Linked DNA regions of Homo sapiens: regions 1 and 3 are each linked to region 2. Evidence: fine-mapped expression QTL. A gene starts in region 2. Each other region holds a variant in brackets. All regions are shown on one strand. Distances are from middle to middle.

Evidence for each region. PIP is the estimated chance that this variant, and not a neighbour inherited with it, causes the effect.
Region 1: its variant is fine-mapped to the expression of LINC00092 in coronary artery (GTEx, PIP 0.96).
Region 3: its variant is fine-mapped to the expression of LINC00092 in thyroid (GTEx, PIP above 0.99).

What each region holds. Positions count from the first base shown.
Region 1 is chr9:96,155,031-96,163,209 of GRCh38, forward strand. No RefSeq gene overlaps it. Among named protein-coding and RNA genes, the nearest start is that of HSD17B3-AS1, 87 kb to the right of the region's middle. RefSeq lists a silencer at 4,688-4,900. The variant C/T (reference allele first, on the strand shown) is at 4,127.
Region 2 is chr9:96,017,074-96,025,238 of GRCh38, forward strand. It overlaps LINC00092 (long intergenic non-protein coding RNA 92), which reads right to left and starts at 4,738. Exons shown (of 2, transcript NR_024129.2): 1 at 4,512-4,738; 2 at 2,659-4,208. It overlaps ERCC6L2 (ERCC excision repair 6 like 2), which reads left to right. Exons shown (of 19, transcript NM_020207.7): 19 at 1-1,374. It overlaps LOC105376159 (a long non-coding RNA gene), which reads right to left. Exons shown (of 2, transcript NR_188619.1): 2 at 6,187-8,165. RefSeq lists a silencer at 3,918-3,967 and enhancers at 4,178-4,227, 5,660-6,160.
Region 3 is chr9:96,065,757-96,073,935 of GRCh38, forward strand. LOC158435 (a long non-coding RNA gene) reads left to right here and starts at 83. Exons shown (of 9, transcript NR_033838.1): 1 at 83-112. The variant C/A (reference allele first, on the strand shown) is at 4,336.

The DNA.
Region 1 (8,179 bases), 140 kb after region 2:
TCTCAAAAAAAAAAAGAAAGAAAGAAAGAAAGAAAGAAAGAAAGAAAGAAAGAAAGAAAGAAAGAAAAGCAAAAGAAAAAAATTTTTTTTTTGAGACGGAGTCTCGCTCTGTCACCCAGGCTAGAGTGCAGTGGCACGATCTCGGCTCACTGCAAGCTCCGCCTCCCGGGTTCACGCCATTCTCCTGCCTCAGCCTCCCGAATAGCTGGGACTACAGGCGCCTGCCACCGTGCCTGGCTAATTTTTTTTTGTATTTTTAGTAGTGACGGGGTTTCACCGTGTTAGCCAGGATGGTCTCAATCTCCTGACCTCGTGATCCGACCGCCTCGGCCTCCCAAAGTGCTGGGATTACAGGCTTGAGCCACCGCGCCCGGCTAAGAAAAAGAAAATTCTGAAACCTCATTCAAGTGCAAGTTATGGACAGGCTCAATGGCTCACCCCTAAGATCACAGCACTTTAGGGGGCCAAGCAAGGCAGGAGGATTCCTTGAGAGCCCAGAAGTTCAAGACAAACCTGGGGAACATAGAGAGGCCCCATCTTTACAAAAATTTAAGAATAAAAAATTAGCCAGGCATGGTGGTACATGCCTGTAGTCCTAGCTACTCTGGAGGCTGAGGCAGGAGGATCCTTGAGCCCAAGAGTCCAGGGCTGGAGTGAGCTATAGTTGTGCCACTGTGCTCCAGCCTGGGCAACACAGTGAGACCCTGATCCAAAATAAAAACAAATGCAAGTTATAGATTAGTGTTACTCATAATAGCACTTTTCACCATCTAACATACTGTATATTTGACTTATTTATTCTGTTTCTTTTCCTACCCCCACAACTTTCCAACCTTCCCACTCATTACCAATGTAGCCTATAAAATTTTATTCTCTGGAGAACTTTGAGAGAAGGACAGGTAGGTCTCTGTCAAACCAGGCTAGTGATGATACTACCTGGAGGACAAGGGTAGAACCAAGGAACTCTAATCGTTACTTTGAGTCCTAATTCTGTGATTTCAGTCTCTCTACTCAGGGTCAGTCCCAGGGTAACAGGCTAGTCACAATGTTGAGATCAGCGTTCTGAGGCTGACTTCCTTTAAAAATGTATAAAACTCTGCTCCAGAATACTAAAACACTTATTACAGCCTGAGCCCCTCCTCACCTGCCTTGAGAAAAACATTGCATTTATTGAACATAGATTAAGCTACAGGCTGCTCCACATCCATGAGGCCCCGAGTCTGCCCAGGACTTTCCTAAACTGCCTTCAACTTGACGGTTCTGCCAGCCTTTCCAGGATGGGGTGACTAGCCACCCCCAGAATCCAGGCCAGCAACATTTAGTCAGCATTCAGCTTGTACATTCTGTCCCCTCCTTCCTCCCTCTGGGAGAACATATGGTGAGAGCTGCTTTCTTTGGAGCAAATCCTTAAGGAAAAACAGACTTTTCATCTTTTTTTTTTCTTAAGTTCCAGTAAACCCTTTTACTGATTTCTAGGGAAATCACTTTAGAGCTTAATTGTGCATTTCCCATCAGAGTCATCACTTCTGTTACTGGAGAAAATGCAACCCACAAGAGGTTTTTGAGGCGGCAGGGAGTGTGGGCTGGGTGCGCAGGTGCATGTATGTGCATATGCATGTGCACAGATGTGTATGCACACACCAACGTACACAGTGCACCTACCCATCACTGAAAGCACTGCTCATGAATAGTCCATTTCCTCTTCCAGAATTGGCCAAATCACGCCATTGTTGACAGCCCAGCTAGGCAGCGCCTGATGACATTTTTGGCCCTGGAAATGACAGGTGTTGATGACCCTAGCCTTCCTCTGGGCCTCTGATGCTAAGAGAGCTCTGTGCGTGCGTGTCTGGGGGGTGGGGCAGAGGAGCAGGAAAGGGCTGGCTCCAGGAGCCTTAGCTTATTTCGCTTCTCCTAACAAAGGCAGGAGGCAAACACCACTGCCAGACTGGGGGCAGCCAGGCATCAATCCTGAATTAACACACGTTATTGTGCTGAAACAGAACGGCCAGCCTTACTTTTGTCCTGGGTGCGTGGGTCATGTCCCATAGGAAGACCCTGTTTCTCTTTTCATTTGCAATGTTTGGTGCAGTGTTTATATTTATCAAGGAAATAGGTGGAAGTTTCAATAACGCCATGTTGTTCTCTCCTTTCCCCAGATGCTTGTGATCAGCCCCACTAATACAGCAGCTATTTCCTTTAACTTTTCTGCAAGTCCAGACTTTGATTCATGGGTCCAGGTGTGCCCACCTCTGAGAGACGGCCCGGGGTGTCATCAGTAATTGCCAGATGGGGAGCTCAGCCCTATGGTCTCAAACCCCTATCTGTTCATAAATGCAGCTCTTGTCTAAGGAGTAGCTTGGACAGCGTGAGTGGGGAGGTGGCCCCGTGTACTGAAACCGCAAGGCGAGGAGAGTAGCGCTCGCTTGCAGACTGCAGCAGCGCCTGCACACAGCGCTGATCCCTGCCATTCCTATCAGAAAACAGGAAACATCGTGGCCTTTAACATAGTCTCCTTCAAAATCAAAATGCTGCTGCTTCTCCAAATAAAATAGAGCCAAAAGTCATGGGGGAAAGTGTGTGTGTGTGTGTGTGGGGGGGGGTGTGTGCGCAGTGTGTGTGGTGTGGTGTGTGTGTGGTGTGTGTGTGTGGTGTGCGGTGGGTGTGTGTGGTGTGGTGTGTATGTGGTGTGTGTGTGGTGTGTGTAGTGTTATGTGTGGTGTGTGGTGTGTGTGGTGTGTGTGTTGTGTGTGTGGTGTGTGCTGTATGTGGTGTGTGTGTGGTATGTGTGGTGTGTGTGTGGTATGTGTGGTGTGTGGTGTGTGTGTGTGGTGTGTGTGTGCTGTGTGTATGTGGTGTGTGGTGTGTTGGTGTGTGTGTGGTGTGTGTATGTGTGTGGTGTATGTGTGTGGTGTGTGTGGTGTATGTGTGTGGTGTGTGTGTGGTATGTGGTGTGTGTGTGGTGTGTTGGTGTGTGTGTGGTGTGTGTATGTGTGTGGTGTGTGTGGTGTATGTGTGTGGTGTGTGTGTGGTGTGTGTGTGTGTGGTGTGTGTGTGGTGTGTGTGTGTGTACACGTATGCACAGTGTGTGTTCCCAATATAGCTTTTGAGAAAACCCAAGAATTTCTTCCGCCTCAGGTAACACATGGATGGGATGCCATTGGCTCCTTTGTCTCTTTGTCCAGGGACTGTCAGTGGATCAAATCCCCAGCCCTCACTAAACCAAGCAGTACCTCCATGAGGATGAGAAACGTGCCCCTGTGGACAGGCACAGGCCTCCCAGAGCAAACCGCTGGTGAGCAGAGCAGGCCGAATTCTGGTCCCGCGCCCTCTGGTGAGTTCTTTGTGCTGGGCTTAAATTGCATACATAGATAGAGCAGTGCTGACAGATTTGAGGTTGAAGCGAAGGGAGGGAGAAGATACAGCTTTTCAATGAGCTGGAGATGCTACCAGCCAGGGATATCCCCACCGATGCATTTCAAAGAATTTCCAGAACTGGTAACCTAGTCTTTAGTTACCACCACAGCTGGGGTCTTGTTCCCAGAGTTTGCTAGTTCAGGAAAGAGCTCACCTGGCTTTCTCTGTCCAGAATCTATCCACCTCTTGTGAGCGGTCTAACACTTAGCAGTGTTCTGGTATACAAAGGGTATTCAATCAATGTTTGAAGTTGGCTGAATGGCGTCGCTAACCAACCACTCTCAGAGGATGCGTCTCTGTTGACCCCTTTGTTTTAGCAAATCGCATGCTGGAATGGCTTCCTGAAATGTATCTTAGTTTTCATGAAAACCTATAAATTACAATAGACCCCACATACTCACCCCACATACTCACCTCAACCCAGAACATACACACTCCCAAGTAGCAGGGGAAAAAATTAAATCAATAGATCAGGAGCGATTCAAGTTCATTTCACCCTGGCAAAATGTTTTAAGATCGAGTTTGAAGAAAACTAAATGTCTCTAAGGCAAGAAGTCCTGGTGACCTACCACTGGTCTTGGAGGTGGTTCAACCACAGCTCTACCACCACTCGTAACATCTGCCCCAAGAACCTTCAACACAATTGTAGTAGGTATTTTTTGTGGTTTCCTCTGGAAAAAAAAATAAGCTCAGACATGTAGTGACTAAATTG[C/T]GAAAACATTTATTGGCTGCAGTGAACCATTTCCTCTTCAGCTTAGAACAACTTCTCTAATTATTAAATTGTTGATAGAAATCACTTTAATAAATGTGGCTTTTCAGACAAGACCCACTCTGGGGAGGCAAGCACAGATATTAGGACACGTGCCATGGGAACTCTGTGGGCCCACTGTGTATTACAGATTGAAGGTTTAAGCCACGTTGAACTCTAGCTCATCACCACGAGGTTATATGAGGTTGGGGTCACCCTAACGTCACTAGGAACAGAGAGGGAACAGCTCTTTTCTTCCCTTGGGAACGAAACCTGACTTTCACAGCATGTTCAAGGCTTTAAATGCTAAATATGTTGATTTGCTTTTGCAAAAATATGATCATTCCAGCAATAATCTCTTGATACATCATCAAGCCTCTCCTTAACCTTGTCCTCGTTCTTTTGTTCACATTAGCAGGTGAAGTGCTTCTCGCCAATAAGTCAACCAGCGGGCTCCAAAATAAAAGTTTCCCATGTGTTTTTGGTAGAGAACTCTCCCAGGAAAACACAGTAGGGCTCATGGCAGTGTGGTGCAGACTCCTGCCGAGGGACGGGCAAGCACTCCTGGATGTGGGTTCCTCATCACCAGCCACTGGATGGCTTCTGTCTGTGGAGCTCAGGGCTCCCAGAAGGCACAGGAGCTTGCTGAGACAGTCCAGACAATGGGAAAGCAGGATACAGCAGGAAGAGGGGGCAAGCAGGCAGTCTTCTCAGGTGGGAATGGCCACCCTCCAGGGCCTCTGGCCACTAGGGAGACCTTACTAAAGAGAGGCAGGGAGGGAGAGAGGGAGGAAGGGAGGGAGGGGGAGAAAAAATGAAAGGCAAAAGAGAGCAAGAAAGAGGGGGAAATAAAGCAAGGAAGAAAAGAAAGAAGGGAGAGAGGGGGAAAGGAAGGAAGCAAGGAAGGAAGGAGAGAGAGAGGGAGGGAGGGAGGAAAAGAAAGGAAGGAAGAAAGGAAGGAAAGAAAGAAAAAGAAAGGAGGGCGGGAGGGAGGGAGGGGGAGAGAAGGAGGAAGGGAGGGGGAGGGAAGGGAGAGAAGAAGGAAGGAAGGGGAAGGAAGGAAGGAAGGAGGGGAGGGGAGGGAGGGAGGGAAAATAATCGAAAAGAAAAGAAGAGGAAAAAAAGAAAAAGAGAAAAGGCTGGTTTAGCCAAGCATAGAATCAGCTTGAACAACTGGCCAGGGAACAGGCCTCAGGCACACAGAAAGGGGCAGAAAGGTCCAGGTGTGGTGGGGGAAGACAGGCTCATGTCTAGCAGACATCTAGGAGGGGCCAACCAGACAGCTGGGAGGTCAGTGCAGGACAACGTGAAGCCACGACCTCCTTCTCGAGAGCTAACTGTGTGCCAGGCCCCGTTCTAGGTGCCTGGGATAGGGCAGTGAGCCAAGCACATGTGGCCCCTCCCTCACTGGGCTCACATCCTAGTGTGGGGATCCACACAGTAACAGAGAAAGGAAGGAAAAGATTTCATTTCAGGTGGTGGTGGATGCTGTGCAGACGCTGGGGGGCTGGAGTGGGCTGCTGCTTAGTGGGGTGGTTGGTGGGTGGTTAGGGGCAGCCTCTCTGATGGGGTGGAAGGGACTACCCAGTACAGGGAGCAGTGACCAGAAACAAAATCACTGGAACCACTGGAAGATACTCCTTCCCCAGCCACAGAGCCAGGGCTCAGGAGCAGGAGGATTCAAGGGGTTGCCGTGTGGCTCTTCAGGGGTGAAGAGACCACAGCAAGCTCAGGGCTGGGCAGCCTGGAGCAGGCAGTCTTTGGCAATCAATCAATAGGGCCTAGAACGCTTGACCTTCCCTGGTCTCTGTGCGCTGGTCCTCAGCAGCTTGGGAAAATACCCCCTGAAAAGACAGGGCGCATCCCCGCCAGCTTGGCTTGGTGTAACAAGTGCCACACACTGGTTGGCTCATAGACAACAGACACTTGTTTTTCACAGTCTGGGCCAGAAGTCAGTGCTAGGGTGGCCAGGTTCTGCTGAGGGCTGTCTTCTGGGTTGCACATGGCTGTCTTCTTATATCCTCACATGGCAGAATGAGGGCAGAGAGCTCCCTAGCCTCTTCTTCTAGGGTCACTAATCCCATGGATGAGGGCCCCACCCTCACGACCTAATCACCTCCCAAAGGCCCCAGCTTTTCATACCATCACACTGGGATTAGGGTTTCAACAGATGAATTTTGGGAGGATACAAACACTCAGTCCATTGCAGGGAACTCAATTCTGTCTCCTCCCCCATTCGGCCAGCTCTAATTTCAAGCAGCTCTATTGGAAGCATTCATTTTCTGTAAAGGAACACACATCTACCTTCCTAAACCCCTACCTTTGTTTCTCACTTTGTTCCCTGAAGCTTCAAGGATAAGTGAAACCGCCTTCCCTGTGAATGCCCTTCAAATATTTATGTGTGGCTACTATTCCTCTCTATGAGCAGACGGAGGCAAAGGCAAGACACGCTGGATTTCAGCACCATTCCCTCCTACCCCCAAGACCAGCATGAGAGTTCTGAAGCTCTCTCACCCTCCTTTATGCGCTTGCTAGGAAAAGTAAGCAAGATAATTTGTAGAAAGTGCATGGCCCAGTGACTGGCACATGGAGGAGCATGAGAGGGCAGCTTCTTTCTCCCTGGGTCCTCTCTTCTCAAAGCTAAGCGTCACTAGTTCCTTCAATGGTTCTTTTTGTGATGTGACTTCAAGAGCTATGATGCTCAATTGTCTTCCGATGCTCTGTTGTGATTCAGACATGCTTAGCTCAAGGCAACCCTGGAGGAGGAAGAAGGAAGCCAGGAGCAGGTGCACCCCCATTCTCCAGTGGGGCAGCTTCTGATAGCATCAGGGCCGGAGCATCAGCCGGACTGGCTGAGTCTCGTGGAGGGAGCCAGCAACATGCGACTCACTCACTCTCTCTCTCTCTCTCTCTCTCTGTCCCTCTCTCTCTCTCTCTCTTTCTCACACACACAAACACACCCCGTGACATTTGCCCTTTTCTAGCTTTCTGTCTGTTTTCTATGACCCCATGATTACAAGCAATAATTAAATCAACTTCATCTGCAGGTCCAGCCAAGATGCCTGCTGTGGCTTCTGTCATGGTGGCCTCGCCTGCTCAGGGTTTTCTCACGTCTTCTGTTCCACTCCTCCGACCTAAGGCCCATCCTGTGTGGAGAAGCGAACACGGCACGGGAGACGAGGCACTCTACTTTCTCTATCTCACATTATCCTTACACAACCTGCTCCCCGAAAGATGATTTCTTCCTTTCTCGTCTTGCTGTTCCTAATGGAGTTTTAAAAGTACGCTTTATTCATGGTTCTTGAGTTAAAGCATACATTGTTGACTCCAAGTTCCCAGCTACACAGAACTGGGCAGCACTGTTTTTAAGACAAGAGTTAGAAGTCCAGCGAAACACTTAAGTAGGAAGTCAGAGAAGATACATGCCCCCACACCCCCACACCGCCCATAAAAATGTAGTCTTTATTGCACACCAACGGAGACCAGCAACACGGAGCAGAGTCTTTATGGATTTCCTGGGAACTTGAAATGCTCTCCCTGCTCATCACTTCTGTGAATCCCTGTCCATTCCCTATAGTTACCAACAGTAACAAGCTTAAAACAAAGCAAAGATGGCAAAGGGCTCATGGCATGTGTTTTGGAGGGTGGGAGAGACATTTCTTATCTCTTTGCTCTTCTGTGCAGTCAGGAGACTCTTGGGAAAAGCAGATGAAGACAGGCCAGAAAGAAAGCCGGGCGCAATGGCTCACGCCTGTAATTCCAACACTTTGGAAGGCCGAGGCGGGTGAATCACAAGGTCAGGAGTTCAAGACCAGCCTGACCAACATGGTGAAACCCTGTCTCTACTAAAAATACAAAAATTAGCTGGACTTGGTGGCATACAACTGTAATCTCAGCTACTCGGGAGGCTGAGGCAGGAGAATCCCTTGAACCCAGGAGGCAGAGGTTGCAGTGAGCCAACATCATGCCATTGCACTCCAGCCTGGACGACAGGGCAAGACTCCGTCTCAAAAAAAA
Region 2 (8,165 bases):
CCTTGCCTGCTGCTCATTCCATCATCACGGATACAGACTTGTTTCTGGTTTCATCTTCCACCAGAGATTGCAAAGCATCCTCTGCCCAGTGCTTCTAGGAGGCCTTACTGGGATGGTTCATAAGCCACTTTCCTCTTGGTGACAGCCCCTGTACACTGTGGCATGTACGGCTGGCTCCACTTGGTATTTGTTGCAGGAGGGAAGAACATCTCACTTTTGCTTGGCTAAAGGGCCACCCCAGGAGAGCTATTTTGCCTCAGGGTCTTGCAGGGTTTCTCTAGGAAAACAGTGCATCTGATAGTTACTCTCTGCCCCTAGGAGGAAAGACAGATTCGCCCTTCCTTCCCAAGTCCCAGGCTGTGTGGTTCCCAGCCCCAAGGGTAGCAAGTCAGAACCTCCGGAGAGGCTTTTAAGCATGCACATGTCCAGGGTCCTCATCAAGAGACTGAATCAGGGGGTCTAGGGCTCAGCACAGGCACCCTTTTTGTTTTTGCAGTTTCACAGGAATTCTGATGTGCCAGTGATTGTCAGGTTTGTCCCTGGGCAGGACCCACCTGCCTGACCTTCTGTCCCCCTGGGACACAGTATTTCCAGAGAGGTGCTTCAGTTGCCCCACCACGACTTCCAGCGCCCCCCATCTCTGTATGCAGCTGAGCTCATGATGGAGCCCACTGTGTGCTTTTTGTTGTTGTTACATTCCTATAAAAATGTCCACGCATATTTGAACATCTGTGTTCATAGTGGCATTATTCACAATGGCTACAACACGAAGAAAGCATTCCAAGTACCTATCGATGAATAAGCAAAATATTACACACACAGGAATATTATTCAGCCTTGAAAGGAAATTCGGACACGTGCTACAACATAGATGAATCTTGAGGACGGTATGCAAAGTGAAATAAATCAGACACAGAAGGACAAATACTGTATGATTCCACTTATATAAAGTACCTAGATTAGTCAGATTCATAGAGACAAAGTAGAATGGTGGTTGCTAGACGCTGGAGGGAGGGGAGAAAGGGGAGTTATTAATGGGTGTAGAGTTTCTGTTACACAGGATGCAAAGTGGCCTGAAGATGGATGGTCGTGATGGTTGCACAGCAATGTGAATTTAATGACACTGAAGTGTACACTTAAAAGTCATTAAAATGCTAAATTTTGTATGTGTTTTACAATTTTAAAAATGGAAAAAAAGTAAGACCAAAAGCAACACCTCTCCAGAATGTGTGTTATATACCAAATTTTGATGTATGTGAGATTGCTGACTATATTTTACTTATCAATTTGAAATTATATTGTTTTTATGTTGACACTCCATATAAGCCATTATTTTGAAAAAAACATTTTCCTTATTAAAAGATTGGAAAAAAATTCACACATAGCATTGTTTTTCTTTTTTTGTAAGACAGAGTCTCACTCTGTCACCTAGGTTGGAGTGCAATGGCGCAATCATAGCTCACTGCAGCCTCGACCTCCCAGGATCAAGGGATCTTCCCACCTCAGCCTCCCAAGTAGCTGGGACCACAGATGTGCACCACCCTGCCCGGCTAATTTTTGCATTTTTTTTTTTTTTTTTAGAGACAGGGTTTCGCCATGTTGCCCAGGTCTGGTCTCGAACTTCTGGACTCAAGCAATCTGCCTGCCTTTGCCTGCATTGTTTTTCTATTATATTTCATGTATTTTATTTGCTTTGCTGCAGGTTAAACTATGATGTTTATATTTATTGCCTAAGTTTCCATTAAGACCAATCTTAATTATACCAACATGATACCTTTCTGCCATGGACAGAGATAATACTCATCTGACATTCTTGGTTTTTTGCTGCTCTGTCTTGTAGATAAGAATCAAGAATGCTTCTTTCTACAGATATCTTTTTCGTTAGCTAAATAGGCCTCGCAGTCTCGTTGAAAGAAATAACTAAAACTCACTTTATGTTGTTTCAGTTTATCTGGCAGGGGGAAAAATGCGTGTGCAGCTCTGAATTTCTAATACGTCTCTAAGGAAACTCCAATGAGTTGTCTTGTCAGACTAAAATGTCTGGCAACTAAAATTATTGGCCTCCCTACATTTTTTAACTTTGAATTTTCTTAATTTTTTTGTAAAGTGGGATATGTTTCTGAACTGAAAGAAACTTCAAAAGAAGCCTCATAATAGCTAATTCATATTTTCTCTTCTTTCCTAAAACTATTATAAAAGCACTAATGGGAACAAAACAATTATTTTTCAAAATATAAATGCCAGGATGCACCATATGAGAAGCCCCCAGCCCCCTCTGCTTGCCTCCCAGCACCCGCATTGTGCTCCAGTGTTCAGCTTTCTCTTCCTCTCCGTCCACCACTCCCTGCCCTCTCTTCCCACTGCCAGTACCTAAGTGGCCTTCCTTCACCTGTGCCTGGCAAAGCCCTAGGTTCCTTCCATGTCACCCCTGACTCCTGAATCGACAGCTCCCTCTCTCAGCTTCCTGCTCACCAAGCTCAATGGAGCCTCAATGACCTGCCCACTGTTGCCTGAGGCAGCACTCTCACTGTCCCAAGACCCCATCACACCTTCACCTTGCTGGGACCTCCTAACTCCCTCAGCTTCCCCTACTCCACATTGGGGGTGTATCAGTCCATTCTCACGCTGCTATGAAGAAATACCCGAGAAATACCTGGGTTAATTTATAAAGCAGTTTAATTGGCTCACAGTTCCTTATAGCTGGGGAGGCCTCAGGAAGCTTACAATCATGGAGGCAGTTCACGTGAAGGGGGAAGAAAGGCACCTTTCTCACAGGGTGGTGAGAGAGAGGAAGGGGGACGGGGAAAGCCCTTTATAAAAGCATCAGATCGGCTGGGCACAGTGGCTCACGCGTGTAATCCCAGCACTTTGGGAGGCCGAGGCAGGCAGATCACAAGGTCAGGAGTTCCAGACCAGCCTAACCAACATGGTGAAACCCTTTCTCTACTAAAAATACACATTAGCCGGGCGTGATGGCGCGCACCTGTAATCCCAGCTACTCGGGAGGCTGAGGCAGGAGAATCTCTTGAACCCGGGAGGCAGAGGTTGCAGTGAACCAAGATCGCGCCACTGCACTCCAGCCTGAGTGACAGAGTGATACTCCGTTAAAAAAAAAAATCTTGTGAACTCACTGTCACGAGAGCAGCGTTCAGGAAACCACCTCCATGATTCAATTACCTCCACCTGGTCCCGCCCATGACACGTGGGGATTATTAAAATTCAAGGTGAGATTTGGGTGGGGAAACAGAGCCAAACCATATCAGGGGGCCAGGCCTTCAGCAGGTGGATAAGATGGGAGGAGTTCTGAAATACACACCCGGGATGCTCCAGAGGCCAAATCATAGGGCAGGTCATCCCAAGGACAGCAGTTAATTCACTGACATGCCAGCAAAGGGCAAACCGAATCGGCCCCGCGGAGCCCAGGTAGGGGCGCCGCTCACCTCCTAAAATGCCCTCAAAGACCCCTTAGGGCACAGCCATATGCTGAGACATGTTGGGGTGGACAAGCAGGTCTCAAGAAGCTTAGAATGTCCCCTAGGTGGACGCTAAGGGACAAGGCCCACCGAGGAAGGCAGCTGCAGATGATGGAATGCCCTCCCAATGGCGGGAACAAGCAAGGCTTCCGCAGCTCAAAAGGAGAAACATGCTTTGCGCTGGAGTCCTCAGAAAAGGCCACTTCCAAACTGTGGGGATGGGGAGTGGACGGGCCTAAGAGAATGGGAAGGCAGAACACCCCTTCTCCAGTCTCCCTTGGCCGTTAAAACCCCAGAGCAGCAGCAACGTGGGCTGTTTGGTGCGGAGGTTCCTGGTTTGGGTTGGCCAGGCGTAGAGTGCTTCCGACAATTCACCCACCCTCCAAGACGCGCGGGCCGGGGAGCGGGGAGAGGGCGGAGGGAACGGCGCACCGGGCCCCGTCGGACTGTTGGACCAAAAGTCCTCAGTGTCGGGGGCTCGCAGCGCCGCCGCGGCGAACCCAGCTAGGGGGCACCGCCTGCGCCGGGCACAGGGAGGCCGTTCGGCTTTCCCCCTCGCGCCCATTACTCTCAGGCGTCCCGGGGAACCCCGCGGGCCAAGTGTCGGGCTGCGTCCGGGCAGAGGCGGCTTCGCCTGGTGTCAGCGCGTTTCCGAAGGGCACCCGCGGCGGGGCCCACAACTCGAGCTGGGAGCCGCCCCAAGCAACCCGTTCCTCCGAATCAGGCTGCTTTTCTCTGTAAAGAAAAGAGAAAGCAAGCGATTAACTGATGGCTTGGCCGGCTGGAAACGGGAAAGCGAGTTCTCCAGGAGCCGCACACCTCGGGGAAGCCCAGTCCCTCCCGGGCAGGGAGCGAGGGGCGGTCCTGGGGGCTGCTTCCCGCGGGGAGAGAAGGGAGGGCGGCGCAGCCCTCTGCGGGGTCCGCCCCTCGGTTCTCCGGACCCCCGCGGCCTGGGGGACACGGGGCAAATTCTCGGATAGCGACGGGCAGGAAGGGGACCCGGGCTGGCGATGGGCCGAGTGCCTCCTTTGCTCTCACCCCCGCGCGAAGACGAGGCCAGTGGGCGGGTGGCGTGGGGCGAGGCCTCCGCAGGCCGCCGGGGGCCCAGGCACCTGGAGCCGGGAGGGTCCGCTCCCTTCCCCGCCCTGGATGGCGGCCTATGGGAAAGCAGTCTCCACTGGATCCCGCGCGCGTCGCGCCGAGGTCGTGGGAAACCGAGGGCGGGAGGGCGGGAGGGCGGAGGCGCCGGCAGGGTCGGCGGGACTGGGGCTCGGACGGAGGACAGGGGCGAGGAGGAGGCAGGAAGGACGCCGGGTACTGCGGGGCGCCTAGGGGGTTCCGAGCGCAGCGGCTGCGGGGCCGACCCGCCCAGGATGGAATCAGGGCCCCGGCGCCCCCACGCCGCTCCTCCAGGCCGAACCCCTGCGGCCCCAATCCCCCGGCCTCACGCCCACCCCGCAGGTCGGCCCTGCAGCTGCCTTCCCTTCCTCCACCTCCCTCCCGCCTCCGAAGCCGGCGCCCCCGGCCAAGTGGCCGCTCTCAACCTGTTACCAAGTCCTAGAGAGAATTTCTCCAAAATATTTCCTGGATCCCCCTGCCAAGGGCCCTGTCCCGCCCTTCCAGCTCCCAACTGGATGCCTGCAGACCTCTCCCCGGGTTCCGAGGCTCTGGCCTCCTCCCTCCCTAATCCATTTTCCACACCGCTTCCCCGGGAGCCCGTTAAAATACACCGGGACCGCGGCGGGTGCAAGCCTCCTGTATCTCCACATAGCAGGCTAAGGGGAATTGGGTAGGGAATAAAGGCTGCAGGGGACATCGGCTGGCAGGTATGAAGCCCGTATTGTGTGTCGTTTGTTAAACACTTCCAGTGGATTTTCTCGTTTAATCTGCCCAACAACGCTTCTGGGCCGGTATTCGTATTGTTTTATAGAGGGAGAAACTGAGGCACAGAGGGGCACTCGGCTTGTAAGCAACGGAGTAATTCAGAGCCCGTCAGCCCCACGCCGAGTTTATTCACCCTGGCAGGGGCTTCCGCGGGAGCCATGACCCTTCCTAACTGGGGTGGAAGGACCCGCAGCGCCAGCCGGGTCCGGGCCAGACGGCAGCGAGTGTCTGTTAATAGGGATGCTGAATGGGTCAGGCAGTGGGGCACAGGTTCAGTGTGATCTGGAATGCCTGCGAGGCCCCCTTGCTCATCCACCTGCCTTTAATGGATGGGTGGTCTGAGTTTCTGGAGATGGGCAAGATGGAGCAGTCTCCACACTTGGCTCTTCAGCCCCGGCGCCCCCCACAGCCGCCTCTGCTTTCCTGGAGATACCGCAGGCTCCTAACCTCAGGCCGGCTTGTGCTGCTCCACCCTCTCCCTCCCCCACAGACACAGGCCACTTAGCGCGCTCTCCCGTCCCTCACCCCTGCCAACAGCAGCCACTTCTGGCCACTTCCTTTACATGTGAATGAGTCCAGGTCTGGGCTGCCTTTGTCCGGGGAGGCCGGTGGGATTTCCATCAATAATTGTTGGTTGGTGAGTCAGGGGTCAGCAGTGGTCTCCTTTCCAGGACCCAGAAATGACACCACAAGGGTAACTGGCCACTATTTCCTGCCTAGGAACTAGCAGCATCCCACCCCCACCACTCCATGGCCTAGATAAGACAGGCCAAGACCCCAGAGACAACAGGACTCTGGAACAGGGAAGGGATTTATGATTAGCATAGGCTCTAGTTAAATTCCTTTTTTTATTTCTGTGCATTGACCTATTATGTAATATGCTTTTTTCTTCCTGGAATACAGATCCTACCAGTGGTTTTATTCCTTTTTTATATAATGTTTAATTCATCTGTCTCTGTAAATCCATCACATGAAATTGAAAGGGTCTCAAAGAGCAGACTGTTTCCCCCCTAACTCTTCCACTATTCAACCCAGGGGCAAGCACTGTCATCCCTCACTGCTACCAGCTTCTGGTCAGTCTTTCTGGCCACACGTATGTAGACATGCTTCATTCTTTTAACTGTGTTTTTGATGTTTTCTATATTAACACCAAAAAAAAGTACACTAAGAAATCAGTGCTATTTCCGAATGGAGCCCGGAGTTTCTCAGCACTGCGCTCCTCCAGTGCCAGAAGCACCCTACTTCTCTTCCTCAGTTGCTTCATCAATCACATGGGGCTGGGGCAGTGAGGAGGATGTATTTGCCTCACATAGAGACTTAAAGGTTTTCCTGATCTCCTCTGGGTACAGAACAAGAAATTAAGGATGATCTGAAATATACAGGGCTTGGATAAGACTTGAAACAATTGTGATGATAGGAATTGCTGGGTTCTGGAACCGAGGATTGCAGTAACCAGGGGCTCAGAAAGCTGAGATATCCCTCCAGTGAAAGGGGACCCGGGAGCATAACTGAACAAAAGTCATTTCTCTTCCTCATGATGGGTATTTCTCTTTTTCTGGTGAGAAGTGTCAGTATCAGCATTTATCTGCTGGAGACTGTTTAAATGTTAGGTGTACTTAGCAACGTTGCATCTATTTTTCTTAAACACGAATCACTTTCCAGAAGGGAACCGAAATGACCACCTCTAAAAGTTGCTACTAACTATTGCTCCAGAAACCAAAGTGATGCCACTCACATGGCTGGCCATAGTCTAATTTCTTCACAAACAGAGGCAGAGCAGCTTGCACCACGTAACCCCAAAGCTTTTCTGTAACTGATCAGAAGTTCCTTTCTCCACCCTTTAGCAGAGGTGCTGGTGACCAGGGAAGAGGAGAAGGTAAAGAGCAGAGTGAATGAAGGGAAGTAGGGGACATAGATTCTTTAAAGTCTGGGTAATCAATCCCAATGTATTCAAGAGAGACCTCAACTTGCTTTCCTAGATGGGACGTGGTGGCCCACGGCATCCATAGCAAACCACTCTCTTCTTGGATAGTTGGCTCCCAGACTTGAAGGCTGTGCTCCTTGCTGTCCTCGGACCTCTCCAGCGGTCTCTTTCTAGTTTCCTTGGTGGGCTCCGCCTCCTCCTCCTCACCTTGTCCCTTGGATTTCCCAGGGAGCTATCCCCAATCTAGGGTTAGTCTCATGCACCCACCATATTCTAGGGGCCCCTCCACTCACTCTCATGCTTTTAATGAATTCATTTATGGGTGATCAGGAATCTTCACCATAGCCCAATCACCCTTCTGAGTTTCAGGTGCACACCCTGTTGCTTTGGTGTGACTGCTTCCCGTTGGGTTATCCTTGGGCACCTCACACTCATTGTGTCCAAAGCAGAATTCTTCATCCTCAACTCTGCACTCATCCTATATTTGAGACTCCTAACTCAGTTAATCGCATTGCTTCAGTCATTGACCTCATAACCCAAATCTCAGCACCATCTTTTTTTATTTGGTTGGATGCTTCCATTCCTCTCAGCCACTGTATTCACTCAGTAACCAAGACTTCCAGAGTTGACCTCATAAATATTTCCTTAACTCTGATGCCTTCTTTCCAGTTTCCTACCAGTGTCCTAGTTCCTGAACCACTGGAATAGCTTCAAGTCTTTCACTTCTTAGGTCTTCTAGAGAAATTTGTCATATCTAGTAGAACTCTTTTGTTGAAAATGACGCAGACTGGTTTAAGCAAAAAAGCAAAATCATGGATGTCAGGCTGGTTTCAGGTGTGGCGTGGTGTCGAAGCTCAAGGGACACCACCCACACCCTGTGTCAC
Region 3 (8,179 bases), 49 kb after region 2:
CCCCTCATCATGGGATGCCTTGCACCACCCTGGGGCCCTGCAGAGTCCCTGCCAGCAAGAGGGCCCTCACCAGATGCACCCCCTAGACTTGGACTTCCCAGCCTCCAGAAATGTAAGAAGTAAATTCCTTTTCTTTATAAATTACCCAGTTTCAGGTATTCTACTACAAGCAATAGAAAACAGACTTAAAATAATATGCGAATGAAGTCTTCTCAAAGAATGCTTGAGTCCATAGCGTGTGCTCACAATGTGTTAATTGTTAGTAATAAGAGGAACAGAGTTGATTCTACTGATTACATTGATATGCTATGATGCAATATATAGAAGTCCAGAAAAGTCTTTTCTTGTTTCCTGGAACCGAAATGATTAATTTGGGGGAAAATGTATATTAAGGGTCTTTTGTCTACCTCAGAACTGCTCCCCGGGCTTTCACAGGGGAGGTGTTCCCGGACCTCTTTTATGCACGGATGCACTTGGGGGGACTGCCCCATGCCAGCCACTGCTCTGCAGATGCCATGAGGAATGGGGGCCGACTCCCTGCAATTGAGTGCTGGGGCATATGCCGGGTTTCACATGTAAATGTGCTTTTCTAGGAAAGTAAAGTTTTCTCAGGCCTAAGGTTGTGTCAAACACAGCAATTTAAAAAAATGTCACAGGAGATGGCCTGAACTAGATTTTGGGCTGCACACCACAGGAAACCTTCACTTCTGGTCTATTCAAATAGTTATTTTCTTCAATTTTCCAAAATTCCCTCAACTTCTGCCACCAACCGTCCACCCAAAATTAATCTCCTTTATTCTGCTGTGGGTCAAAGGAAGGGAAGGAAGATTTCCTGAGTGATTCTTTGGGCAAATGCCATAGACCTAACTCTGCACTCAGGTGCGACTCGTACATACTTTGTCTCCATTTCTCTTCTCCATTTCCAAAATGAACTTTCCTGGAATCATCTTGGTGAAGAACAGCCTTTATCTCTGGAGAAGGCGCTCCCAGAACACCTCCCATGTTTTACTATCCTCACCGGGCCACCAAGGCCTCCGAGGGCCAAGTCCAGGGCTCCCAAAGTAAGCAGGACCCACAGACCCCCATGCCCCCTTTGGGGACAGCTGAGGGGGGCTGGGTGTCCCTTTAGGAAAATATTTGAACACAGCCGGTGCCCTCCTTCCTGCCACCCATGTGGTTGTGTTTTTAAATATGGCTTGAACTTGAAGCAGTTTCCATTTATAAAAATTCCTTTGCAAAATGTTCTTTCCAATAACAATATTCCCATGTGTGCCTTTGCTTCTGATATTTTTCTTATAAATTAATCTGCTAAAACAGAGTCCTCTTGGCCTTTGGCTTTTGGTGTCCGCAAATGATCCCGCCCCCACCCTGCGGTTTTGGGACCTCCTGCTTTGGCTCTGGGACCCAGAAAGTTTAGACCGCCTTCTTTTCATTCCTGGGAGCTTATCTTACAGGGTTTCCACAGTCTGTGCAGTGCTGAGGGCCAGATGTGCGGCAGCGGCCTCCACACAGCCTCCAAGGCTGCTGGCCCCAAGCAAGCCCAGGCAGGTGGCCTCCAGGGGCACCGCACATGCCCCTCCTGCTCCTTCCCACCACCTTCCACCTCTGGGAAAAGAAAAGACAGGCTGCCTTCTTACTTTGTGTCCTCAAATACCAATGACCCCTGCTGCCAGGGTTCCCGATTTGGGCTCAACATAGGCGTCACATTTCAAAATCCCTGAGCCAGGCTCCACCCATGCCCATCAGAGGGGACTCCATAAAGGAAGGACCCCAACAGGAGGGTTTTTGGAAGCTCTCCGTGACTCCGATGTGCCGCTGAAGTTGAGAACTTGTCCTGGAGGACACCCCCAGCACCCCAGCCAGCATGCCCAGGAACTTGCCAATAGCTGATCAGCCCAGTAGGGATTTGATCACGGGACTGGGCTTCTCCCCCTGGCAGAGGGCTTCTCTCTGCCACATGAGGATTTAGTCAAGTGCGGTGGCTTTGTAACTGGAACTGTATAATATTACTCACTTCCAAACGGTGGCAGGCTTAGAGAGATGACCCAGTGACCATTACGAAATGCCTGCAATCACTGCTGTGACATCTAGAACCACAAACCAATTTATGTTTGATTTTGTCAATATTGCATTTTTCTAGTACGAAGAAAAAATGAGGCACAAACAAATTTAAATACATATACATAGATACACATATGTGTGTACAATATATATGTATACATGCATGAATGTGAGTAAATATATAAATTTCAATATATACACACAATATGTAAATACTTATATACATATATATATATATATATATATATGTATATCTGTACACACACACATCTAGAAATGATTCCAGAAGGACATGGGCTTGGGTTCGAATTTTGGAAAGGAAGACTGATACTTTAATACTCCTTTCCAGAAGCAACAAGGGTCTTTAGTGGGAATGCTGGGGGTTTTATAGAAAGAAAAATCATAGTGAGATGGGCTTAATCAAAAAAAATCTTCTGCAGCCAGGCACAGTGGCTCACACCTGTAATCACAACACTTTGGGAGGCTGAGGCAGGAGGATTGCTTGAGCTCAGGAGTGCAAGACCAATCTGCCTGGGCAACATGGCAAAACCCCATCTCTACAAAAAATACAAAAATTAGCCAGGTGTGGTGGGACATACCTGTAGTCCCAGCTACTTGGGGGGCTGAGGTGGGAGGATCCCTTGAGCCCAGGAGGTCAAGGCTGCAATGAGCTGAGGTCGTGCCACTGCACTCCAACCTGGGCGACACAACGAGACCCGGTTTCAAACAAAACACGAAGCCTCTTTGAACTTGACAGACGGTGTAATGTTAAGCATGGAAATTCATTTTGAAACATGAGGAGTGTGGCAGGCCCCCCTGAAGGACTCCTGGTCTAGGGGCCCTGAGATCTGGCACGCTCCTCGATGGCAGGGCCTTCGTGTTCCTCTGGCTCGCTTGTCTGGCAACCACCCAGCATCTGACCAGTGCTCCTGCGATATTTGCTAGAAACAAATAAATGAAACCCAATACTTTTGAATTTCCATAACAACATTTATCAACTAGGTTTCAAGTTTAGAGGTACATTTCAAAATATTATTAGTGTTAAGCCCCCTCTCCCCTCCCCACTCACATACACACCTTCCCACGGTTCCTTCAACCCATTTAACTGGCTGTTTCCTCCCTGATTCCTTTTTTTCTAAAGAGCTATCCTGACAAAATCACTGAAACACCTTGATCTATAATGGCAAAAACAATTTGAAAAGACAGTGAGAATAAAGAACCTTTTACTGGGTTCTGATATGAAGGGGTGTGACAGTAGTTTTTCTGAGGTATGAGCCTCTCCATAAAAGAGTTGTCCAACTGGCTACTTCCTACCTATAAATGGGCATTTCAGGGAGACAGGGAAGCTGTACACACACACACATTTATGGAGGAAAGATATTTTAAATATGTTTCAACCAATAATAATGTAAAAATACCCAGGAGACTTGTGATGTGGAGCCAGAAGGAGTCTATGAGGTGAGGTTATGTCTGCCCCAGTCCCCTTTGAAGCACTTAGAAATGTGACGAATATAGAAAAAAACCAATAATCCAAAAAGGTGGGAAAGGGGTAGGGAAGTCTTTACCCTCCATGACTTGGGCAAGCTCTGTGTTTTGAAGGAAAAGCAAAGTGTGAGTCTAAGTAAGAAACATTTTAGCACTTTAAGGCAGGGGAGGTTTGCAGTGCTAGAGAGAGCCGAAATTCTTTTGAATCATAACATTTCACAGCACTACGAGAACACCCAAGATTTTGCATACTAGGTTAACTAAGCCAATTATACTTCGTTACATTGTAATAAAAAGTCTTTATCTCTTGAGAAAACTCAAGCGATTTCTTGTTGAGTGCTGTGTAGGTCTGATGGAAACCCTTCAGCTTCCTGTCTGAATTGGGACTGAAAGGCTGGCAATCAGAATTGAAGAGACCTGATTTTCTGGGCAGAAATGTATGGGTTTTTAAATGCCCTGTCCGCCTCTACAGATCTGCTTATGTCATCCACAACTTGCAAATAAGACATGCTCAGCAGTTTACAAATGGGTTGTGTGCAACTTAGGAAGCATGCTCGGTTCTGTATGCTTGAGCCCTGACCTACGCGACGTATTCTATGCTTCCACATCACTGAACTCACCATTCTGCTAGCTGGCTCTGTCTGCCATGCCTTGGTGCATTTGCCCATGTGGTGACCTCTCCCTGGAATTGCCTTCCTCTACTTCTCCACTGAACAAATACTCAGTCTTCTTTCAAAACCTGGTGTCACCTCTACTCTGAAGCCTTGCCTGATCCCACGAATAGATGTC[C/A]TTGTCCTGCTCACAGAGCATGTAAGCGCACTTACGTGTTATTATGTATCTTTCCACATGTCTTCCTGATCAACAGGCTGTGAAACCCTTCAGGGCAGGGATTATGCTTCATTCTTCTCTGTATGTCTGGAGCCTGGACCAGCACCTCTTGGGTTGTTGTTCTAGGAGTAATCAAGCAGGAAAGTTCCAGCAAAAAGAAATTCCAGTAAATGAAGGAAAAAGACATGGAACCCAGGAAATAGTGCCTACAACCCATGAGAGTGGTAACAGCAAGTCCAGGAATAACAGCTGTGCTGCGGACCCTGATATCAGCCATAGGCGAGGAGGCCTTTGTGAGGAAGAAAGGGAGAATACCTGATATGATGGAGACTGCAGAGACAGGAGGGCAGAGAGGCTGAAGCTGTGATGATGGCAGATAGTACAAAAACAAAGCCTATTCACAACTCTAGGAAAAACAAACTTTATAAGAAAAGAAATGATTTATTTCATGGAGCTAGCGTAAACAATACCCACATAGTCATAAAAATAGAAATTTTGAGGGCCAGGCACGGTGGCTCATGCCTGTAATCCCAGCTTTGGGAGGCCAAGGCAGGCAAATCACGAGGTCAGGAGTTCAAGACCAACCTGGCCAACATGGTGAAACCGTATCTCTACTAAAAATACAAAAAATTAGCTGCATGCAGTGGCAGGTGCCTGTAATCCCAGCTACTTGGGAGGCTGAGGCAGGAGAATCACTTGAACCCAGGAGGTGGAGGTTGCGGTGAGCTGAGATCATGACAGAGTGGGACTCCATCTCAAAAATACATATATATATAGAAATTTTGATTCTTAATTTAACGACAATAGTGATATATCTGTATCAGGACAGAGGTGGCAAGGACATAGGTAACTAAGTTAGGGCCAACAAAGTCTGCACCAAAGTTGTTGGTAGGACTTATGAACATGCTCCCTAAAAGGTCAAAAAACACTTGAGATATCCCCCTTTTCCTTTCTCCTGCCTCTTTCTTGCCAGATGTGGGGACTTCAGGGTTGCTACGGCGGATCCATAATCATTTGGGTCCAATTTCCTTCCATCTTTCTGCTCCTCACGTATGGATTCTCTTATGTGAGAGAGAAACAAATCTTTATCTTGTTTAAGCAACTTTTGCTGGCTCTCTGTGCTGGCAGCTGAACATAATTTCTATCTAATATAAGACATGGAGCTTATTATTTAGAGATATGGAGCTAACCATCCAAAGAAACACAGGCCTCTCAGCTGTGCTAGACAACTTGGGGCATGTACAGGTTGGAGGGTCTGTGGGAGGCAGAGGCACACTGTTGATGCATGTGCACCCCATGCTGAGGGGTGACCAGTGACCAGGCTGAGAAAGCCAGGCTGAGTCAAGGAGTGCCTCCTCCCAGCAGCAGCTTTGCCTAATTCCTAATAGGATGCATGTGTCTGGCCATCGATTTAAACAGCAGTTTGGATTATGGAATGATTGTTTCGGCAAACTAGGCTGGACACTGCTGATTGAACCCCAGAGCTGACACTCTTCTATCTCCTCACTCCCCTCCCCTCTCCTGCTTACATTCTCTGCTGAGTGCTCAGCCTTTTGCAGTTCCCACTATCCCCTGCAGGGACACTGTGAATGGTTGTTCAAGTCATGCACTGAACTAGTCATTCATGTGATTATTTTTTTTACTTAAGAGAGGGATTCCTTTTTCTAAATCACAGAAAGCCCCTGTATGGACTGGGATCCCCCTTTCTCCCATTGCCCTTAAATAAAATCCAAAATGGCCTGCCCCCACCGACCTCACTAAGCCCATGGTGACCTCCCCTTGTGCACATCACCCTAGTCATAAGGCACTTCTCTTCCTTTCTCACATGTATCAGACCTCTTTCAGTCTTGGGGCCCTTATGTTTGTTCTTCTCTCTGGAATGTTGTCCTCTAGATTTCCATTAATCGGGTTTCTGCTCAATATCATGTCTCCACCAAACCCTCCCAGACGGCTCCACCCAGTGTTGCCTTTTCTGTAACCATCCTGTTACACCGTTTTATTTTCCTGATAACACTTATGGCCATCTGACATTTGCTTGTTTCTTTACTTGTTTGATACTTGCCTTCCTCGTTAGTGTGTAGGCTCCATGAGGACAGGCTGTGTCTGGGACAGGTTGGACTCCCAAGGAAGCAGACTGTCGGAGACAAGGATGGAGATTTACCAGGGTGTACTCTCAGGAACCCCATCTTGGGAAGGGAAGAGAAGGGAAGGGAATAGGACTGGGCAGGAGGGAAAGCACATCACAGCCAGCTCACCAGAAACATCAGCCAGCCCTGCAGAGAGTTCTGAAGGTGGGCTATCCCTGCAGGGAGTTCTGAGGGTGGGCTATCCCTGCAGGGAGTTCTGAGGGTGGGCTATCCCTGCGGCCTTGTCCCAGGTCAGCACACACACCGCTGGGCTTTGTGCTCCTCATTGGTCCTTCACTGGTGCTGGGCTGCTCTCTAAATGCGCTGTGATCTTGAGGGAAGCAGCTCCCTGTGGCTCAGGCAGTCCGCAAAAAGGCTGACAGCTGAGGACTCCCTGCTAGCAACGTCCTCAGCAGTGTCCTTCCTTCAGGGTGACCTGGGGGGCACATCAGAGCATCCAGCATGTCTATCTTGCCCATCACTACACCTCAAGTGTCCACAACATCCTTGGTCCATAGGAGGTGCCCAGTAAGCTTTTGATAGATGACTAAGGGACATACAGGCCTTGGTGGCTTGAGGGTCACCCGTCTCCTTCAAGCACGCATTGCATATGACTGCTCCACACCACTGTGTTTCAATCTTATATTTTAATCCCTGAAGGACGTGTTACTTCCTAAATTTTGGTGCAGATTATCAGACAGGGGACAGATCACTGTCCCAATTGCCTTACCACCAAAACAGAGAGCCTGAGAGAGGCAGACATCTGATCAGCCCCCAGCCCACTCCCTGGGCACTCTCTCTGCCCATGCTGGGGGCTGCTGGCCCCCACAGCTCTGCCGCGCCCTGACTGTGGGACTGCCCCCACAGAACGCAAAGCAACGGTGCCTCTCTTTAGGGGTCCCCGTGGCAAGTCTTCACTAAACTGTGGCAGCCTCTCAATCTGACGCCTCTACCTCCTGAAGAATATTCTGTTGTCACACAGCCCTTCATTCAGCACAGATGACTCGCCCCAGAACACAATACAGGCCTCCTTCACCGAGGACAGCTTCTTTAGGCAGATTTTAACATTTGTGCAATGAAGATTAATTTTACGTTGAAAACTGTAGAGTGTTAAGCTTGAGAATTTGAAATATATCTTATTGAGACGAGAGGGCTAGAAACTGTCCCAGGGTCATGAGGGCAGAGCATCCTTTTTAGGGCGAGCTCTCTACAAGCACCAGGTCGCCACAGCAGCTCCTCTGCGGCTATGCATTCGCCATTCTTCCCTGTGTCAGCCGTGGTGCTGTTGACAAAGTTTCTTTTCCCATATCTTCCAGAACTTGATAGGCTTGACCTTCTCCACGCCTTTGAAATCATCGCACATGTGATTTGTTCTTGCAGTGAAATGTGAGTGGGAAAGACGTGCACCATTTCCTGGAGGAAGCTTTGAGGACCAGTGCGTGCTTTGAAAACCAGAACTGCCAGTTCTTGTCCTGCTTTTTCAATGGTGATAACATATCTCAAGTTGGCATGCCCTCAGCTGGGCCTCTGAGTAACTGGGAGGCTGACGTGCAAGGGAGCAAAAAGCAAACCTTGGCTGTTTAACCACAGATGTGCAGGATTTATCTGTTACTAAAGCATTACCTAGACTGTCCTGACCAAGCAGTACCCTCCCTCCTCTCTCCTTCCCTCTATCTCCT